Linked DNA regions of Homo sapiens: region 2 is linked to region 1. A link means that fine-mapping ties the variant in region 1 to the plasma level of a protein whose gene starts in the linked region. Region 1 holds a variant in brackets. A gene starts in the other region. All regions are shown on their forward strands.

Evidence for each region. PIP is the posterior inclusion probability: the model's chance that the variant is causal. The UK Biobank Pharma Proteomics Project read protein levels with antibody pairs (Olink). The fine-mapping took linkage between variants from a reference panel, not from the people measured, so its PIPs are less certain.
Region 2: GFRAL starts here. The variant in region 1 is fine-mapped to the plasma level of the GFRAL protein (UK Biobank, PIP above 0.99).

Annotation. Positions count from the first base shown.
Region 1 is chr20:41,198,977-41,210,133 of GRCh38, forward strand. ZHX3 (zinc fingers and homeoboxes 3) reads right to left here. Exons shown (of 4, transcript NM_001384317.1): 3 at 3,081-6,090. The coding sequence starts at 5,940. Among named protein-coding and RNA genes, the nearest start is that of MIR6871, 36 kb to the left of the region's middle. The variant T/C (reference allele first, on the strand shown) is at 5,012.
Region 2 is chr6:55,321,338-55,332,494 of GRCh38, forward strand. It overlaps GFRAL (GDNF family receptor alpha like), which reads left to right and starts at 6,132. Exons shown (of 9, transcript NM_207410.2): 1 at 6,132-6,239; 2 at 10,378-10,512. The coding sequence starts at 6,218.

The DNA of each region.
Region 1 (11,157 bases):
TGTTCTCTTCTTTTGCATGCCCAAATCTTTGTTGAATCCCTCTAGTGGGTTTTCCATTTCAGGGATTATACTTTTTAGCTCTAGAATTTGTTTGGTTCCTTTTTATAATTTCTATCTCTTTATTGATATTCTCATTTTGTTCATGCATGGTTTTCCTGATTTCCTTTAGTTCTTCGTCCATGTTTTCCTTTAGCTCGCTGAACATACTTAAGATAGTTGATTTAATGTCTTTGGGTAATAATTCCAATGTCTGGACTTCCTCAAGGATGGTGCCTGTCAATTTTTTTTCCTGTGAATGGACCATGGTTTTCTATTTCTTTTTATGTTTTGTAATTTTTTGTTGAGAACTGGACATTATGAGTATTACATTGTGGTAACTGAGAATCTAATTCTGTCATGCCTCAGAGATTGCTGATTTTTGCTTATTGAGGGCTGGAGCCAACTATTTGTGACTTTTCCAACTATTTTTGTGAAGTGTGTATTCTTTGCAGTATGGGGTCAGTGAAGTTTCTGTTGTGATATCTCTGTGGTTAACCAGTGACCTAAGATTTCCTTAAATATCTGGCTTGCCAAAAGGAGGAATAAAGAAAAAAAAAAATAGGTACTGTCTCTTTAAATCCCCTTGTGGCTAGAAAGCTCCCTCTGCCCAAGGGCATTGAGACAATGATCAGCCTCTGCACTGGCCCCCTCAGTGATTAAATGCAGTAATCAGAAATCAAAAAACTCTTTTTTTTTTTTTTTTGCAATGGAGCCTCACTCTGTTGCCCAGGCTGGAACGCAGTGGTGTCATCTTGGCTCACTGCAACTTCTGCCTCCCAGGTTCAAGTGATTCTCCTGCCTCAGCCTCCCAAATAGCTGGGATTACAGGCACTCACCAACATGCCTGGCTAATTTTTGTATTTTTAATAGAGACAGGGTTTTACCATGTTGGCCAGGCTGGCCTCAAACTCCTGACCTCAAGTGATCCACACCTCAGCCTCCCAAAGTGCTGGGATTACAGGTGTGAGCCACCACACCTGGCCACAAAAACTTGACTTTTGGAGGACAAAGTTGTTATTGCCTACCCTGGCACCAACAGTCTGCACCAGGAACATTTTCCACAGTTGCCTGCTGCAGAGCTTGCGGATGCTGAAACAAAAAAAAACCATCAAAATTTGTAAGCCTCTCCATCAAGCTCTTCCCTGGATGTTGCAAGTGTTCAACTAGACTTCTGAGTCCCAAAACAGTTGCTTGAGACAATTACTGCCAGCTCAACTGCTTTGGTGGAGGAAAAGATTCCTGGTGCTGCTACTGCCATCTTCCATAACATCATTCTCCATGTCAGCTTTCGTAATCAACTTGTTCAAACATCCTCATCTCTCTTGAGCATGACACCCTGGCCTACTGGTATATTACAAGAAGCACAGAGCTGGGTATAATATAAGGACCAACTTACAAACTTGGACAAAGACTTGTAGGAGAGACTACCTGCTCTGCATTATAAAAAAGTTAAACTAGCCATAAAAACCTGTTGTTCTGACTCCAGGGTGTGCCATCAGCTACTTTATAAAGCAGGCTGTGAGCTGTGGGCCCCAAAGGAGGGGAGTGTTTTGTTGTTGCCGTATTGAAAACATGGCTGGAGTTGGAGGAGGCTGTAAGGGAGCCAGTGGCCCTTGTACTCCTACCCTAAGTGCTGACCAGGGCTTTGGGCTCCACCAGGTGTTTGCTCTCACTGTGGGCTTTGTGGAACTGGATTTTGCCTTAGTATGTTAATATGAGAAGAACAGGCTTTCTGCAAATGCTAAACAGATGGATGACATGGTACTCCCCGCCCCCAACCCACCAAATTATGGGCCAAAAAGGAAGTCTCTTTTTCCTTAATTCAGTAAAGAAACAATAGCATAACTATGTTTCAAACTGTTGTGTTCAAATGAATTTAAAATATTCAGAGAAAGAAAAAGAATTTTGTCCTTTTTAAGACATCCTAAGTAGAAAGCAACTGGGGTGGAGGAGCTGGGATTTGCCAGGCCAAAATAAACAAACAACAATGGTTGGCTATTGTATGGAAACAATGCAACACCATCCAGGAAATTCTGTGGGATTTCTGAGGGATAGGCCACTATGGTTGGCCCTGGGGATGAGGTACCAAACACAAGGCCCCACACTGAGGCAGCTCATGCCAAAGTCACCACGGAACCATCACATTGCCCAACACCACAAATAGTGTCTCCTGTACCCCCTCCCACATTGCCAACTCAGCTAGCAATGCTGCCATTTTGGAACCCCCAATCCCTTCAGCTTCTACAATACTCCGCCCTCCTGGCTCTCACCTGAGCTTCTGGCTGCCCTCTGATGGGGTCTCTAATGAGAACACAAATGTCAAAGGGTAAGGAGGGAAGGGAGAGGCTGGGAACTCAGTGACCAGGAACCTAGAAAATCAACACGTAATAACATGACTTGTCTGTGGCTTCAAAACTATGTCTTAAATAAAAATAATCTTCTATGATACATTTTGCTTTCGAGTACAATCCAGAGAAACTGAGGAACAAAATTCAAGCTTTTGATTCCATGTATGTCAAAGAAGGAAGGTGATTTTCCATTATACTAAACATTTCTTCTACATCAGGCATAACCAGAGAAACACAAGACTTTCATCATCAGAAAAAAGCACATTATGTATCTAAGGACAATTAAAGGCTCTCTTTCCTTTTCATCAATTTGAGCTGAATTTCAACTCATGTCCTGTTGCTGTCTCCTACCCAGTGGCTGTGGATCTGCCCGACTCAGAGGATGTTTTGACCTGTTCTCCTATTGCTAAGAAATGGCTAGAAAAGCTTGGACCCCTTTAGGGTCACCATGTTCCTTCCCCTGCGCAGGTTTTTAAAAACACATGAAACAAAAAACAGCTCTCAACCGTTTATCATATTATATTCCTATGGCTTCTGCTGCTAGTTGTCCTCTGAAGCAGCCAGGCGGTTAATGCTGCTGCCAGGCAGCCTTAGAGACAGCAGATGCCCCTGTGCAGTAAATTCAGTGCCCAACCATAAGTGCCTCCTCCCCTTACCCACACAGGATAGCCATGGCCCCTGTGGACTCCTTACCGAGCTGACGTCCAGCCTGGGGACTCGATGTGTCAAAGGGCTCTGAGCTGGCCTCAGGGACACGGGGCTCCCACGACTCACTGTTCTCAGACACCTCTGAATAGGTGTCACCCATCCCTTTGTGAACTGCTGTGAGCTCACCAGTACCAGGGCCCTGGTCCTCACTGCCTGTGTCTGCCACGGCTCTGGTCTCCTCCCCCATTTTCTCAGCAAACCACTGCTTGACCTGCTGGGAGCTCATCTGGGTCTTGTCACAGAGGTTCTGCAGGTCCTCTTCATACAGCATCTTGTGTGTCATGTAATAGTCCTGCAGGAGCTCCCGGTTGCCAGGGGCAATGACCAGTAGCCCTGGTGGGAAGTTGCCTCGCTTATAGTCTTCGTACCATTTGAGTTGGCCGTTCTTCAGTGCGTACCTGCTATCTCCAAACCAGCGCACCACCTCTGGCCGTGGCAGACCCGTCTGGGCCATGATGGAGTCATAGTCCTGGTTGCTTGGCCACTGTGTCTGGACAAAGAGCTGCCGCAGCAAGTGCCGCTGCTGGGCAGTCTTTTTGCAGCTCACTTTGCCTGGGAGCTGCTCTGCCAGTTTGTTTGACTCATCATCCTCAGGGTCACAGGCACCCAGCCCTGGAATCTCGTTCCTGCCATTGGCTTCAGTGACCCTCAGGTTCTTCAGGTTGATTTTAATGGGGCTGACTTTGCGCTCTGCCAAGATATGGCTGCTGGGCATTTCCAGAGAGCCATTTTCACCAGAGACCCTTAGCTCACTGGCCAAATCCTCTTCTCCACCCTCATCCTCAGCAGCCTCCTCTTCCTCCTGAGAGGCATTCTCCTCAGCCTTCTTGGTCTCCTCAGCATTCACTTTTTTCCGTCTCTCTGAAAACCAGCTATCAATTTCTCGTCGGGTCATTTTGGTTTCACTTCTCAGGCGGTCCAGTTCCTCATCAAGAGGAAGAGGGTTTTGTGCAAAACTGCTCTCCAGGGCTCTGAGCTGCTCAGGGGCTCTCTCCTTGTATTTGGTTGGTGTGAAGTCAGGAGTCTGGTGCCAAGATTGTCGTTTGGCAGAAGGGTGGGTTGCTAGTGTGGCTGTTGTCGGAATGCAGGTTACCTCAGGGACCTTGGACGATGGGGAGAAGGACACCTCTGGCACAGAGTCAATGATGATGGAACTGTGATCTCCAGGTATCATCGCTCTGGAGCCCTTCAAGTTCCGGCAGTGGTATCTACGATCACTGAACCATTTCCGCACCTCTCTGGTACTGAGGCCCGTCACTTTTGTGAGATGTTCAACTTCGCTCTGCCCTGGGAACTGGTTCCGACAGAAGCTCCCTTTCAGAGCTGACAGCTGTTCATGAGATTTCTTATTTTTGTAGATGCTAGCATCAAGGAAGGCTTGGGAGGTTATGCTGGGGCAGGCCGTGAGGAGCGACTGGGCCGCATTGACCACCTTCACAGCTGACGTTGTATTTGAACACACAGTGTTAATGGGTGCCACACCTGGCTGCTTGGGGACGGATGTCACCGTGAGGGGGAGAGGGGAACTTGTTGCTTGCAACCCATTGGCCATCAATGGCTGAGTGACCAGAAGTCCCCCTCCTGTACCCTCTGGCTGCCCCACAACGTGACCTGGAAGAGCGGCCTGGATGAGATGCTGGACATTGCCAGCACTGGCGACGAGTGGGGTATTTAGAACCGTAATTGTGGGCTGAGGCACAGACTGGATGACTGTATTGAACATCTTTTTCCGGGCATCCTCAATCTCCTCAGGGGACCAGCTGATCCCCTGCTTCAGCCTTTGGGCTGTGAACCAGATCTTGAGCTGTTCTTCTGGATACTTGGTCACCACAGTCAAATAGCAGAGCTCGGCTTTGGTGGGGTAGGGGAACTTGTGGAAGGAGTTCTTCAGGAAGCTGTTAGAGTCCATGGCTGCA[T/C]TGTACGTTGGAATGCTGCTCAGGGGGATCATCACTTTGGGAAGGGCCTTGGCCGTGGGCAGTGGCTGGTGGACATGGTGTTGGGCATGCACTGGGGGCTGCTGCTGGAGGGAGAGGAACTGTGCTATGCCAGCTGGCAAAACTGGCACTGTTCCTATCAGGGGCCCGTTGGCGGCATGGGGGTTTTTTGCAGAGCTGGCAGATGCCTGGCTGACTGGAACTGCCCCATTGATGAAGGAATGGTCCCCCTCTCTCACCTCCATTTCTCCAGTCGACAGCTTTGGTAAGGCCTCACCCACAGGCTGGCTAGGGACATTCTCCTTGAGTGTATGAATTTTTTTGGCTTCAGCTTTGCCTTTCATTATCTTCATGATTGGAGTTTTGGTAATGATGATTTCTGCCTGTCCATCAGCCCCTTCAGCACTGGGCTCACCCGCTAGGTCAGGAGTGCTGGTGCTCTCAGGGATGCTCTGCTCCACAACCACATGATTGTCTGGCTTGGCCACGTTCCACACAAAGCTGGCTTCCCCGGAGTGACATGTGGCATTGTGCAAGGAAAGCCCCTCAGGGGTTTTTGCCAGAAAACTGCACCCACTGCATACAAAGGTTGGGTCTTTATTAAAGTCTGTGTGCTCTGAGTTCATATGTCCCACAAATTGGGTCATGTCATGGGATCTGAAATCGCAGTATTTACAGGAATATAAATAGCCATCTAAAGTGCTCCGATGCCCATTGGCCAGTGTAGAGCCATCAGTACTGCTGGGGTTCTGTGCTGCCTCACTGCTGGCAGCAGATGCTTCTGGGGGCAGATCCTGCTGGGGTCCTTCAGGCAAGGTCTCAGCGGGCTGGGCCTCCATGCTGGCATCTTGCAACACCACAGTCTTCACTGGGATCATGCATGGTGTGGTGGATTTCCTCTTGCTGGCCATGGTGACAATCACTGGGTGATCAGCAGTTGAGAGCTTGTCCCATAAGGGGCCTAACAATACAAGTTCCAGCTTCTCGATGAGGGCCAAAGAAACAGTTTCTAAATGCAGCTTTTTCAGTTGTTTGCAGAAAGCAGGTTTTCCCTATTCAATCTAAGGAAAGGGAGAAAAAAATGATTAAGTTCTCTTAAGTGCTTTCTGTATATTTCTCGGATACCCAGACACATTCCACTGCTTGCCTTCTACCATCTAGGTCTTTTCACAGTAAGTTTAATCAGCAACTTGGATATGAAGTCTAAGTTAGGAACCCCCTAATGACAAAAACTGGACCCTGAAGAATGACCTGGGGATGGTCCAATACCAACTGATAGACTTAAGCAACGTATTTTTGTTTCTTCCCCACCACCCCCTACATATCCCTGCATTAAGTAATTCAGATTAAAAAACAAAACGCCCTCTTTTTGGACCTCCAAATTAATTCTGACCATGTCAGAGTGAGAACAAAAGATCCTAGTGTAATTCTTGTTTACATTTTGGACCAACACGCGGTTTTCTTTTCATAGCCTTCCCGCATATGAGAACAAGATGACGCCTCTGTCTGTCCCAAGCCAGGCCCAGGGACCAAGTTAGCTGCAGTGTGTGAACGGAAGGGGTGGGGTGGGCGGGGGTGGCTAGGAAGACCGGCTGCTGTAAGAGCCAGGCCTCTGTAGCCTTTCCTTGCCTGCCGCACTTATTCCAGGCCACAGAAAAGCGATCACCTTACAGTTACTGGCTGTTATGTATCCCGGACCACTGTTACTGAGATGAAACCAAAGGTCAGAGGGTCAGGGAATCCACAGAACCAGTTTGTGGCCCAGCAAGCTATACATTTTCTGTGTACGACCACTCAAAGGGTGGTCTCACCTTGAGATCTGAGAACAGTTGGACTGCCTCCCCAAGTGGGTCCCTGACCCCTGAGTAGCCTAACTGGGAGGCACCTCCCAGTAGGGGCCGACTGACACCTCATACAGCTGGGTGCCCCTCTGAGATGAAGCTTCCAGAGGGAGGATCAGACAGCAACATCTGCCGTTCTGCAGTATTTGCTGTTCTGCAGCCTCCATTGGTGATACCCAGGCAAACAGGGTCTGGAGTGGACCTCCAGAAAACTCCAACAGACCTGCATCTGAGGGTCCTGACTGTTAGAAGGAAAACTAACAAACAGAAAGGACATCCACACCAAAACCCCATCTGGACGCCACCATCATCAAAGACCAAAGGTAGATAAAACCACAAAGATGGGGAGAAACCAGAGCAGAAAAGCTGAAAATTCTAAAAATCAGAGTGCCTCTTCTCCTCCAAAGGAACGCAGCTCCTCACCTGCAATGGAATAAAGCTGGATGGAGAATGGCTTTGATGAGTTGAGAGAAGAGGGCTTCAGACGATCAGTAATAACAAACTTCTCTGAGCTAAAGGAGGATGCTCGAAGCCATCACAAAGAAGCTAAAAACCTTGAAAAAAGATTAGATGAATAGCTAACTAGAATGAACAGTGTAGAGAAGACCTTAAATGACCTGATAGAGCTGAAAACCATGGCATGAGAACTACATGACGCATGCACAAGCTTCAGTAGCCGATTTGATCAAGTGGAAGAAAGAGTATCAGTGATTGAAGATCAAATTAATGAAATGAAGCGAGAAGTTTAGAGAGAAAAGAGAAAAAAGAAACGAACAAAGCCTCCAAGAAATATGGGACTATGTGAAAAGAACAAATCTACGTCTGATTGGTGTACCTGAAAATGACAGGGAGAATGGAACCAAGTTGGAAAACACTCTTCAGGATATTATCCAGGAGAACTTCCCCAACCTAGCAAGGCAGGCCAACATTAAAATTCAGAAATACAGAGAACAACATAAAGATACTCCTCGAGAAGAGCAACTCCAAAACACATTAATTGTCAGATTCACCAAAGTTGAAATGAAGGAAAAAATGTTAAGGGCAGCCAGAGAGAAAGGTCGGGTTACCCACAAAGGGAAGCCCATCAGAATAACAGCGGATCTCTCGGCAGAAACTCTACAAGCCAGAAGAGAAGTGGGGGCCGATATTCAACATTCTTAAAGAAAAGAACTTTCAATCCAGAATTTCATATCCAGCCAAACTAAGCTTCATAAGTGAAGGAGAAATAAAATCCTTTACAGACAAACAAATGCTGAGAGATTTTGTCACCACCAGGCCTGCCTTACAAGAGCTCCTGAAGGAAGCACTAAACATGGAAAGGAACAACTGGTACCAGCCACTGCAAAAAACATGCCAAATTGTAAAGACCATCAATGCTAGAAAGAAACTGCATCAACTAACGAGCAAAATAACCAGCTAACATCATAATGACAGGATCAAATTCACACATAACAATATTAACCTTAAATGTAAATGGGCTAAATGCACCAAGCAGACCTAACTGACATCTACAGAACTCTCCACCCCAAATGAACAGAATATACATTTGTCTCAGCACCACAGCACACTTACTCCAAAATTGACCACATAGTTGGAAGTAAAGCACTCCTCAGCAAATGTAAAAGAACAGAAATTATAATAAACTGTCTCTCAGACCACAGTGCAATCAAACTAGAACTCAGGATTAAGAAACTCACTCAAAACCGCTCAACTACATGGAAACTGAACATCCTGCTCCTGAATGACTACTGGGTACATAACGAAATGAAGGCACAAAGAAAGATGTTCTTTGAAACCAATGAGAACAAAGACACAACATACCAGAATCTCTGGGACACATTTAAAGCAGTGTGTAGAGGGAAATTTATAGCACTAAATGCCCACAAGAGAAAGCAGGAAATATCTAAAATTGACACCCTAACATCACAATTAAAAGAACTAGAGAAGCAAGAACAAACACATTCAAAAGCTAGCAGAAGGCAAGAAATAACTAAGATCAGAGCAGAACTGAAGGAGATAGAGACACAAAAAACCCTTCAAAAAATCAATGAATCCAGGAGCTGGTTTTTTGAAAACATCAAAATTGATAGACAGCTAGCAAGACTAATAAAGAAGAAAAGAGAGAAGAATCAAATAGACACAATAACAAACAATAAAGGGGATATCACCACCGATCCCATAGAAATACAAACTACCATTAGAGAATACTATAAATACCTCTACGCAAATAAACTAGAAAATCTAGAAGAAATGGATAAATTCCTGGACACATACACCCTCCCAAGACTAAACCAGGAAGAAGTTGAATCCCTGAATACACCAATAACAGGTTCTGAAATTAAGGCAATAATCAATAGCCTACCAACCAAAAGAAGTCCAGGACCAGACAGATCCACAGCTGAATCTACCACAGGTACAAAGAGGAGCTGGTACTATTCCTTCTGAAACTATTCCAATCCACAGAAAAAGAGGGAATCCTCCCTAATTCATTTTATGAGGCCAACATCGTCCTGATACCAAAGCCTGGCAGAGACACAACAAAAAAAGAGAATTTTAGACCAATATCCCTGATGAACATCGATGCAAAAATCCTCAATAAAATACTGGCAAATCGAATCCAGCAGCACATCAAAAAGCTTATCTACCACGACCAAGTTGGCTTCATACCTGGGATGCAAGGCTGGTTCAACATATGCAAATCAATAAATGTAATCCATCATATAAACAGAACCAAAGACAAAAACCACATGATTATCTCAATAGATGCAGAAAAGGCCTTTGACAAAATTCAACAGCCCTTCATGCTAAAAACTCTCAATAAATTAGGTATTGATGGGACGTATCTCAAAATAATAAGAGCTATTTATGACAAACCCACAGCCAATATCATACTGAATGGGCAAAAACTGGAAGCATTCCCTTTGAAAACTGGCACAAGACAGGGATGCCCTCTCTCACCACTCCTATTAACATAGTGTTGGAAGTTCTGGCCAGGGCAATCAGGCAGGAGAAAGAAATAAAGGTTATTCGATTAGGAAAAGAGCAAGTCAAATTGTCCCTGTTTGCAGATGACATGATTGTATATTTAGAAAACCCCATCGTCTCAGCCTAAAATCTCCTTAAGCTGATAAGCAACTTCAGCAAAGTCTCAGGATACAAAATCAATGTGCAAAAATCACAAGCATTCCAATACACCAATAACAGACAAACAGAGAGCCAAATCATGAGTGAACTCCCATTCACGATTGCTTCAAAGAGAATAAAATACCTAGGAATCCAACTTACAAGGGATGTGAAGGACCTCTTCAAGGAGAACTACAAACCAGTGCTCAACGAAATAAGAGGACACAAACAAATGGAAGAACATTCCATGCTCATGGATAGGAAGAATCAATATTGTGAAAATGGCCATACTGCCCAAGGTAATTTATAGATTCAATGCCATCCCCATCAAGCTACCAATGACTTTCTTCACAGAATTGGAAAAAACTACTTTAAAGGTCATATGGAACAAAAAAAGAGCCCACATTGCCAAGACTATCCTAAGTCAAAAGAACAAACTTGGAGGCATCATGCTACTTGACTTCAAACTATACTATACTACAAGGCTACAGTAACCAAAACAGCATGGTACTGGTACCAAAACAGAGATGTAGACCAATGGAACAGAACAGAGCCCTCGGAAATAATACCACACATCTACAACCATGTGATCTTTGACAAACTTGACAAAAACAAGAAATGGGGAAAGGATTCCCTATTTAATAAATGGTGCTGGGAAAACTGGCTAGCCATATGCAGAAAGCTGAAACTGGATCCCTTCCTTACACCTTATACAAAAATTAATTCGAGATGGATTAAAGACTTAAATGTTAGACCTAAAACCATAAAAACCCTAGGAGAAAACCTAGGCAATACCATTCAGGACATAGGCATGGGCAAGGACTTCATGTCTAAAACACCAAAAGCAATGGCAACAAAAGACAAAATTGACAAATGGGATCTAATTAAACTAAAGAGCTTCTGCAAAGCGAAAGAAACCACCATCAGAGTGAACAGGCAACCTACAGAATGGGAGAAAATTTTTGCAATCTACCCATCTGACAAAGGGCTAATATCCAGAATCTACAAAGCACTTAAACAAATTTACAAGAAAAACATCAAAGAACCCCATCAACAAGTGCACAAAGGATATGAACAGACACTTCTCAAAAGAAGACATTTATGCAGCCAAAAGACACATGAAAAAATGCTCATCATCACTGGCCATCAGAGAAATGCAAATCA
Region 2 (11,157 bases), not on the chromosome of region 1:
ATTCTGTTGTAAAGGCTAGAGTGCAGTGGCACAATCTTGGCTCACTGCAGCCTCTGCCTCCCTGGTTCAAGTGATTCTCCTGCCTCAGCCTCCCGAGTAGCTGTGACTACAGATGCGTACCACCATTCCCAGCTAATTTTTGTATTTTTGGTAGAGACAGGGTTTCATCATGTTATCCAGGCTGGTCTCAAACTCCTGGACTCAAATAATCCACCAGCCTTGGCCTCCCAAAGTGCTGGGATTAAAGGCATGAGCCACTGCGCCCGGCCATGCATGTTTTCTTTCTTGCCTGGTAGGCAGGAATCTCTCAACTTATTTCTGACTTTCTCTCACAGGGAATTAATTGAGATGTTCATTCTGTGCATTTGTGAGTATTGGGAGTGCCAGGAGCTTCCTATTCTGCCATGTTGCTGACATCAGTCTAAGGAAAACAGTTTAAAGAAAGTTCATCAAAAAGTAACAGTAGACACATCTGGGTGTCTTAAATATGAATACATTTCTTTCTTTCTTTCTTTCTTTCTTTCTTTCTTTCTTTCTTTCCTTCTTTTCTTTCTTCCTTTCCTTCTCTTTATTTCTTTCCTTCTTTTTCTTTCTTTCTTTTTTTTTTTTTTTTTTTTTTTTGGAATTTTGCTCTTGTCGCCCAGGCTGGAGTGCAATGGCACAATCTCGGCTCACTGCGACCTCCGCCTCCTGGGTTCAAGTGATTCTCCTGCCTCAGCCTCCCGAGTAGCTGGGGTTACAGGCATGTGCCACCATGCCCCGCTACCTGCTAATTTTTGTATTTTTAGTAGAGACAGGGTTTCACCATGTTGGCCAGGCTGGTCTCAAACTCCTGAGCTCAGGTGAGCCACCTGCCTTGGCCTCCCAGAGTGCTGGGATTACAGGCGTGAGCCACTGCACCTGGCTACTTTTATTTCTTATATTTTTCAAATGCTATATATATAAGTATCAAAACTTTACAATGTAAAAACTATTTTGAAAAGGAAAAGATCATTATAACAGTTATAGATCTGTTTTCAGTAGCCTTAGCAACTTATTAACAATCCTTTTATGTTCCTGTCGGACATCTCCCCCCATGGAATGTCCAAAGCCCCTTTCCAATGCACCATTGAGAGAACTGGCCTTACAAAATTGCCCTATCTGGAATTCAGCAGGACCATACACTACCCCCATTCAGTCGTCTCTCTGAAAGACAATGTTGGCAGTGTCTGGCCACAATTCAAAGGTTACTATCTCCTATTTTTAAAAAAAGGACTAGAACATATAAATTTGAATACAAATGTATAATGTTTTGAGGTGATCTGGTAAGATGTTGGTCTTCCTTCATTTAGTAATAACCTCGCTGGATCAACAGGTACATAACATCTTTTCACGGTGATAATTGGAATGTGCACTAGACTCTAGCAGTTACATAAAATGGGAAACAGAGAGTAGCAAACGAGTTATAAGGAATTTAAAGGCGTTATGAATGCTTTTTAATAGTTGGTCTTAACTATGGTCTTAGAGATGTAATAAATTTCTGAAAATCAGACCCAACTAATAGAGTAACACGACCATCACCAAAACACAACCATGGAGACTTACTCAATTTTAGCTGAAAGGGGATAGCACTGTCTCAGCCAAATTGGACTGATATGATTGAGTATATTAATTTACCCAAAAAAGAAAGAAAATGACATATACCTCCTTATCATGAAGAGGGCTACATGGGGTTTATTCTAACCTGATGCCATTAAATATTCAGGTTATATAGAATGAATTATGGAACTAATCCTCTTTAAATATTTTCACCCACCAATTTTATGTTAGCATACCTACATTAAGATACTGGCTAGCATTTAGCTTTTTTTATAAGTAAATAAATTGGCAATATCATTAACACTTCCATCAATATCATTGTTTAAAGCATAAATAATAAATGAGTCCATTCTTTATTTCCTACTAGACTGAGGGCCAGAACTTAATAATAATCCTCTAAGGCAATCTTATTTTTTGGAGCTGTTTTAGTTCTCTTGAAGACAGGCAGCGTATCTTCCCAAATGATGACATGAGCCAAAGGAATGGCTGTTTAATTAAAATTTTTAACTTCATCAATGGATTGAATGATTTTGTATAAAGAGTATTGAACTGTGAGTCTTGTGCCTTGATAAATGGTGACAACCAACACCAAGTAACGCAAAACAAAAGTAAGAATTCATTCCTCCTTCTCAACCCGCCCACCATCTCAAATGGTTGCCAGATCCTGTAAATTTTAAATTCTGAAATTTCTTGGACCTACCATTTTCTCTGCATCATTACTACTTTTAGTTCAGCCCTTGTCATTCTCCCCTAAACTACTGACATAGCTTTGTGACAGGCAATTTACCTTGTTTCCAAACCATCTTCCATAGCATTGCATAAGCAATTTTTCAAAACCCAACCAGGTTACTCTGTTCTGGAACTCACCAAAAGCCTCTCTTTCTTCTGTTAAACTCTAGTCTTCTTGGTAAAGCATAAAAGGCCACCCATAATTAGCACTTATCTTTTCCTCTTCATCCACTGAGTCTCAGTAACGTTAGTCCATCTGAACTCCGCAGAACAAACCTCAGAGTCTTGGCTCCTTGTGGTTTCTCAGCTTCTCCCAGTTTTGGCGGCCTTGTCCCTCCATGCCTGGCCACATCTCATCAGGTTGTGAGTGAGGAGCTTGATGGGCAAGTTATGGTGAGGTGATTAAGTATACCTAATTATTATTATTTTTTTTGGTGAGGTCTTCCAATAAAAAAAGCAAGAGTTTTTTTGTTGTTGTTGTTTAATTTCTCCAAAAATTACTGCTTCATGTCTGCTTTTATTACTTGGCATCTTAGAACTCTGTTTACAGGTCTTTTAGCCAAGAAACTCATGACCATATGTATGTATTCTTTTCAGAATGTCAATTTTAGGTTGGCTAGAGCTGAACAGACTCCTCCAGACAGTAGCATGCTACAAAAGTTTTAAGTAGACAAATATAGTGGTAATGCAAAGGTGATTGGAGGAAGTCGAATGTCACTGAACAAAAGCTTTAAACAACTTTATGTTCCAAAAAGAAGTGCCCTTGAATATGAAGTTTTTTTCACTGATTTATCATAGAGTTTTATTTAACAATTTTTCTTTTTTCGCTTTTATATGTAGCTTAATTTGCATTCTAGTTTATCCAATTCATGCAACTAGTGTCTGTCCCTCATTTTTGTTTTTGTAGAGTCTTTGATACAAAAGTCTTTTAGTAAATATTACATGTCTTTTGCCAAGGTGTGAGGTCTAGTGCATTTAACTGTCATGAGAATGATACGTTAGCTAAAACAAAATTTATCAAAAAGCAATTACATAAATTTAGGGAATTTTGAATGGGAATTTCAGAGCCTTTGGGATGCTTCAGTAGCAGCTGTGAATGTGCTGGCAAAGCCCAATAAGTAGAGCTGAGGACTACTCATGAAAATTCCCACCGGAGCAGCTGTACTTTCTTCTGTTTCATTTATATATTACAACATTTTACTTGAAATGTAGAATACATTTTAAAATTAGGCACACATTATAATTAGAAACTATCAAAATTGATAATTCTATTTCTACAATGTTCTGATTCAATAGCAGCTTTCATTTAAATAATCGAGAGTATTATTTTCGTAGACATTAAATTTGGGTTTATGAATTTGAGGTTCTATAATTTGCTTGGGGTAAAATTGTGTTATCTTTTTACTAAACTCATTGAAATTCAGTACTTCCTGTGCTATCTTTGTCACTAATAGAAGTTACAGATATTTTTATATAACATTTTATTAGTGGAAGTTCTTTCAAATTAGGATCTGTGATAATCACTACACTGAAACAACAATATTTTTAGACTCACTTAGATCTTGATATTTCCTTCTGCAATGAGGAAGCATATGTATTACTTTATCACAAATTTAAAACATATTTTGACAAGTATATTTTAACATACTTAATTTCCTTTATGATCTTTAAAATTTTTTTTTGCCATGAAAATATTATCCTGAGAAGGAGTCTATACACAAAGAGGACTGATGGCTCAATGAACAGGCATTCAGTGGTAACACAGCTGATATTATTTTGTGTTGGATAAACAGCTATATGACCACAGGTGCTTTCTATACCTATAAGTTATAGACCGAAGCAGCTGTACTTGTCTGGCAAAGATTAGCACCATTCACAGGGTCTTATATTCAGGTTCTGTGGATCACTGCACTCTAGAAAGTCATAACTATATCGCCTTCCTTGAACAGAAAATTATGTTATTCTCTTCCTTTGTTTCATAAGTTTATTTTCCTTGTGGTTGCTCTTCTTAAACTCAGCACTTAGATACATTACTAAGCATGTGGTTTTTGCTGCCCCAAGATCCCTTCAGCTGCTTCTTCTAATACCATAATTTTCCTTCGTGATGCACACCTTCTGCACCATCAGATTCTGTGCTTTGAAAAGGGCCAACTACACTGACAACCTGTATCTATGATACTGGACATGGGGTAAGTTCCTTTTGTAAAATTGATTGGCACTTGACACATCTAGAACTGATGTGACTTAATTCTGCAACTTTAATAGTAAAAGAATGACACTTTCTACCCTGCTTTCTAAGAGAGAAGGATGTTTGCCAAGGGCTTCACAGCCATCTTCCCACCAGAAGGAAATAGCCTTTCTGGGAATAGAACTGGTAGAGAAGAATGCAGGTAAGAGACAGGAGGAAACAAACAACTTAGACCCAGAGAAAACAGTTTAAAACACACCTGAAATTAATTCTTCCCACGGACTCTTCAACTATGGTAGTAACCAACTCTGTCCTAGTTTAAGTCCTTTTAAGTTGGCTTATATCTAAGCTTGTCTTGGTAGAAGTCATTAGGAAAGTTTAGTGACTCAATCCCTTGAAAAGAAGAAAAGATTGATTAATTTTATGATATTATAATCCTTCTATTATGTAATAATTAAGTCAGTGAATGTAATATAATCAATTTTTTTGTGATATAAGCCCCTCATATACATACCTTATATTACAGCAAGAATTAATACAATTGACACATTTTACAAAGGAGTGAATAACTTCCAATGCTAAGTCACTCATCTAGATCTATAGAGAAAAGCAGTGTTATAATTTTTGTTTGTTGGACTCTAGAGTCTGTGTTTTTTCATTATGCCTGCTGAAAACAAAATATAGTATAACTTCTCTACTGGTATAAAATAAACATGAACAATATGCAATCAAAAACTCAATGGTGTAACTGCACAAATACTTCTCTCCCATCCCTATCTCTTCTTAATTTCTTGCCAAAGCAGCATTTTATTTTTTAAGCATTCATTCTAGAAAGGCCTCCAGGTGATTTAGAAATAGAAGTCTCATGACACCCCAAGAAAGATGATGTGCTGTAGGTTTACATGAGGAAGGGCGTAGCCAAACCAAGGCATAAGATAAATAAGTCCCTTCATTGAAACTAGGAAAAAAAATAGTTGTCAAGTGATGCACACAAATGTAGATGATTATCTTTCCAGTGGAACATAGAATTTCTGCATCACTGAGAAGAGTATGTTTTTTACACTGTAGCTGTACTTGGAAGGTATCAGATACTGTAGCTGAAGTGGCATAATTTTTAAGCATACTGGGGTTTGTGGCACATGTAATACAACATTCTTTGTTTGGGAAGCAGCTTCCCAGTATGTTTGAGTTATATCAGGCTAATTCTAGTAGAACTTCGATTTTGCATACATTTTCCAGGGCTATTATGCGTTTTTAGCTTTTCTATATCCTCAAATGACATGAAATTGCCTTAATGAGGCTAATTAAACAAGTGGAGACTGAGTATGCTCAAGTGTCTTTGAAAATTTTGGGTCATATTTGGGAGGCTTTTACGTAGTGTTGTATTTTAGTTAAGGAAAATAAACCTTTTTCATGAACGTGCAGATTATGTATCATTTCTCTTAGTATTTGGCTCATGGGCTTTCTTAGAGGCATAATATCCTAATATTCAAGACCAGCACCCTCAGGAGAATAATCGAATTTGAATATAATTAGAACAGTTCACAACTTAGGAAACACTGGGGAGGAAATGATGATATAGGAAGCTGACTTGAATTGGTAATGCCTTTAGGAAGCAAACACAGAGGCTGAAGCCTTATTCTGGACAGTTACTCTTAAGAAAGTTGTCAGAAGAAACGCATCTGCCTTTTTTTCCAGGTGAACTGCCGTGAGTTGTCCAGCATGATAGTGTTTATTTTCTTGGGTAAGTGAATGGTGCTTCTGGTTTATCTGAATTATTCATAATACTAATTCTTTGTAAACTGAATACCATCACACTTAAGCTTAACAGGGGCTTATAATATGAAGTACCAAGTAAATTACAAATTTATGCTTTAACATGGTTTATTCTTCTTGCAAAAATGTACACTCACTTTTACTCACTTATTTCTAACTCTATAGATAATGCAGCATGTGAAAATTGTATTAATCTCTCAGCTTGTTTCTGTTTTATTGTATAGAATGACCCAATGACTTTGAGTTACTTATTAGGATTAATGGAATTCACACATGTGTTAGAACCTTTTAGAAATAAAAATAAAACCTTCCAGTATCTATTTACAAGTTATAAGATGAAAAATTTCAAACTGTTATCTATTTTATTTATTTTGCTTTGAAATTAAACAAAAATAAGATTAATTTAAAACATTCAATTTACCTACAGTGTTAATATTTGCTAACTAGAAGTAATTTAGTGAAGTAAAACCACTTAACACCATATCAGAATGCTTCATATTTTCATTAATTTTTATGACCTAGAACTCAAGTGTGGACTTACTTCTCTTGTATTGGATCCGATGAATGTATTATAAGATGTTGATGAAAAATAATTTATTTTTATTTAATGTAGAATCCATGAATCTATTTGCTAGATGTGTGACTGGAGAATATTTTATATCTTCTTTAGCATTTGGTAGAATCTATAAACTGAATTCAGAAAAGGAATAATTGTAACTGTAGCTAGATTGTAATTTTAAAAATATGGCATTTTATGTTTAAGCTAATATATACTTGAATAAAGGCATAATTATGGGCCAGAAAGCAAAGAAGTTTACTTTAAATTGTATCGAACATAAAAGGAGAGTCATATCAAGTCAAGGAAACAAGTTAAGAAGGAGAGAAATCCCTTATATTTTCAGTTTTTCTTTTGTTTAAGTAATATTTTTCCATTGTTCCATAATTTTGCTTTTTGTAATTATTCCTAAAATATTTTCTTATTTTTATAAAGATTGTTAATATTTCTTTAGTTCTTTTTTGTGATAAAGAGAAATATAGGAAACTTTAATTTTTATAGATCAGGCAGCAATATAATGAAGCTCACAAAATACATTACAGACTCATTATGACCTCAGTTGAAAAGGCAATGGCCTCTTATTTTCATCTTTTACTTCTAAATTAACTTGACACCAGGTTGCATGAAGGAGGGAAATAACTTCTTAACATTGTTAGAACTAAAATTATACTATTTGATATGTTGTACCAACATTTCCCATATTATATTTTTTAGAATGCTTGTTTGACATTATCTAAATAGGTCTTATAATGAGGAAAATGTCTGTTGGTAAAGAAATGTGGAAAACAATGAATTTTAAAATCTCAGAACATTTAGTAGGATAATAAGCCCCATACATCTTTAAAACACTGATATAATTTGCAGCATTATCCATCTTATTAATTTAAAAATAGAAGTTATTTTTCATTGAGTATTACAGGAAAATTCTTGAAAAATCCTAGGTTAAATACAAAACCACAAGTCATAGTTTGGAATGAATAAGACAGATTTTGGAGAGGTAATACATTCTTGATTCTTGTGGACCAAATCATTGAGGTGGTTTTCTTAGTTGAGTCAATATTTTGTTGAGTAGGAAGTGTGGAAAATCCTATAAAATAATCTATTAAGAAGCTTGTTCAACCAAAAACTGAAAATGTGAAAGGAAGTAAAACATTAAAAACTGAAAATGTGAAAGGAAGTAAAACATATTTGGGGAAGACAACATGTAGTATTTCTAAGTGATTATTACTCTGAAGTACTGATGAAGTTTTGATGATATATCTGGGATATTATCACTTATAAGATTCTTGAAGGGGCTTTTCACAAGATATAATGATTAATGGCAAATAAAATACCATTTTCTTATAAGTTGAGTTTATGACTTCAAATTTCTATTTCTGGGTCTTTGGAAAACTGGATTTGACCAAGTAAATTTGTGCTAGGATCAAAAGAGTCCTCTTTTTCTTTCTTTGGGCTAGCCAAATAAGGAGTACAAGGGCTTGGCTAGATGAGGTTGTCCATGAACACATGAGAAAACAGAAAGCTGATATGTCCATTTCCACTCCAGCCCTCAGCAAGAAAAATGTTACCAAGCTACACCCATGGGCCTAATCTCCAAATGCAGTGACCCAGCAAGTAGTACACATGGTCCAATCAGTTGTCTTGGATTCTTCTTATAAGATGAGATTTGCAAAGAGGTAAGATTTAAAAAAAAAAGAGAGATTTCAAGCCCTTACTTGAAGCCTATCACTCTACATTGTCACAGGTGATTCATAATTAACAACAGCATTTAAAAATTCAAATAATTTGGCTCTTATTTAGTTATAGCTTGACTCTCTTGATGACAGTTACTACAACTGTCTCTGTAACACAATTTCAATCCCTGTATTTTTTTCTATTAATTGATTTGGCTAGTGTCACTTCATATGTTTGCAGAATCAATTTGACTAACTTGCGTAACATATTAAATTAACATTGCTATTTTCTTGATTGTTTTTAGAAAACTTGCTGGATTTCTCCTCTAGCAAAAGTAACTTGTAAATATCTGGAAGGTATTATTTTTTAGATGTTATCAGTTATTTATATATCTTATATATAAACATCTAATAACTTGGGTATAAGCCAATATTCATTTATTGAATACCTATACTGCATCACTGTGTTTGGTGACAAAAATACAGTTATAAATTATCCTTAATGTCTGTGGGTAAAGCTGTACAATCCAGTGGTGGAGACAGGCACATGAATATATACACTACAGAACAGTAAAATCTGTAATTGCGGGATCCCCACAGTTCTAGTAAATGGATGGAAGATGTCAAATTCAATTTGAGTGTGGAAAAAGGGGAGTATAGAATTCAAGTAAAGTTTCCAGAAAATAGCTAATGATTGTGTTCAGTTTTAAACAACAAAAAGGGTTATTCCAGAAGAAAAAGAAAGAAAATACTTATCAGGGATCAGACAGTAGGTATGCAGAGGTAGAAGACAGCATGGATCATTCGGGAAACGATAAATGCTTGAGACCTTCCAGATTGCACATGGTGAGGAATATGAGAGCCCTGATATGAGAAATAGTTTAAAGGATATAAAACAGAAAAATGGCAAGACTAGAATAGTACATCAGGTAGATTAGGGGTTACAAAGAACCTATCTGAATAAGGTTCTGAATAAGATTCAAACTGGAGGCAGACTGACTAATAAGTTAAACAAATGCTCAAAGTGAAAGTCAATAAATTTAGCAAGAATGAATATGGGAGAGTGAAGTTGAGGATGGAAAATAGTCTACCACAAAACCAAGATTTCTAGTTTGAGTTCTCATGTTAATTGTGGCATTGTGAATGAAGTAGTGGTCCACAGTGGAACAATGATGATGAAGATCCTGTGAAAGTGTTTCTGAAACATTCAAGTAGAGATAACAATTACGTACCTATGACAGGAACGCTGGAAATACTGAGATTAAATTATACATTTGAGAATCATCAGACTAACATTTTAGTTCAAACCATAAGAGTACATGGAATTTTCTGCAGAGAATGTATAAAATGAAAATAGAAAAGGTCTGAGAAGAGAACCTAAGCTAAAATTATACTTTACTAGAAGAATAAAATGATCCTGGGAATAATTTTAGCTATGGTCAGAAAATACAAAGTGGATAAATATCAAGAGAACAGAAGGGAGGGCTGGCAAAGGAAGAGTTTCAAAAACAAAAAAGTCAACAAAATGGTCAATGGTGAGATAAAGTTTAAAACCATTAAGTTAGATTTTAAAGGGGTAATTAGAGACTTTTTTAAGAGCAGTTTTAATGGAATAATAGTAATAAAAATAAATTATAAGTTGAGGAATAAATAGATGATGAGACGTCAAAATGAGCAAATTTAAAATATTCATTTAAGAATCTATAAAAAGAAATACAGATCTACAGCTAGAGAGGAGGTTAAGGTTATTCCCACCATCAATTATTTCACTACATGTTATTTTCCATAATTCTGCTCTTTATCATTAATAACTTAGATTTGAAGAAAATGGATGCCAAATTTATATTACAACCTTGTTTTTGTTGTTGTTATTCAAGCTATGGGGTTAAGCTTGGAAAATGAATACACTTCCCAAACCAATAATTGCACATATTTAAGAGAGCAATGCTTACGTGATGCAAATGGATGTAAACATGCTTGGAGAGTAATGGAAGATGCCTGCAATGATTCAGGTAAACAAGTTGCTAAAAATACACTCAAATGATTTATTTTTACTAAGATAAAAACAGGATTTGATATTTTGTCATTATCCTAAGAACTAAGTTTTTTTCTATGTATCTTATTTAATCTTGACCCCCATCGATTCACTTTTAATCATGTATTAGCAAATTTAATTACAAAAGGATTTTCTTAATTACTAAAGAGCTTTAATTACTGAGGGCAGCATTATTCAAGATTTCAGATTATTTTCTTACCTCTCTCACCATGTATAATGCTACAATTTTATGCATTCTTCTGAGAACCATGGCACTATTTTTTTTCAAATAAAAGGTTATTTTGATTACATATGTCAATGATAAAATAGAAAAAATAAGATTTGTTATAATAATTGTTGTGCATTTGTCCATGCACAATGTACAATGTATATTCTTGAAACATATATGCGGTATTTCCAATTCTATGTCAAGAACAAGTAAAGCTATAGTTTTGTTTTTAACTTGGCCTACCTTCCAAACATTTGTGGGGAGGTTCAAGAGTTGAGAATGTGAAGATTGGAGAGTGACTGGTATTTTCTTTCTTTTTTCTTTTTTTTTTTATTTTGAGACTGAATCTTGGTCTGTCGCCAGGCTGGAGTGTAGCTGCGTGATCTCGGCTCA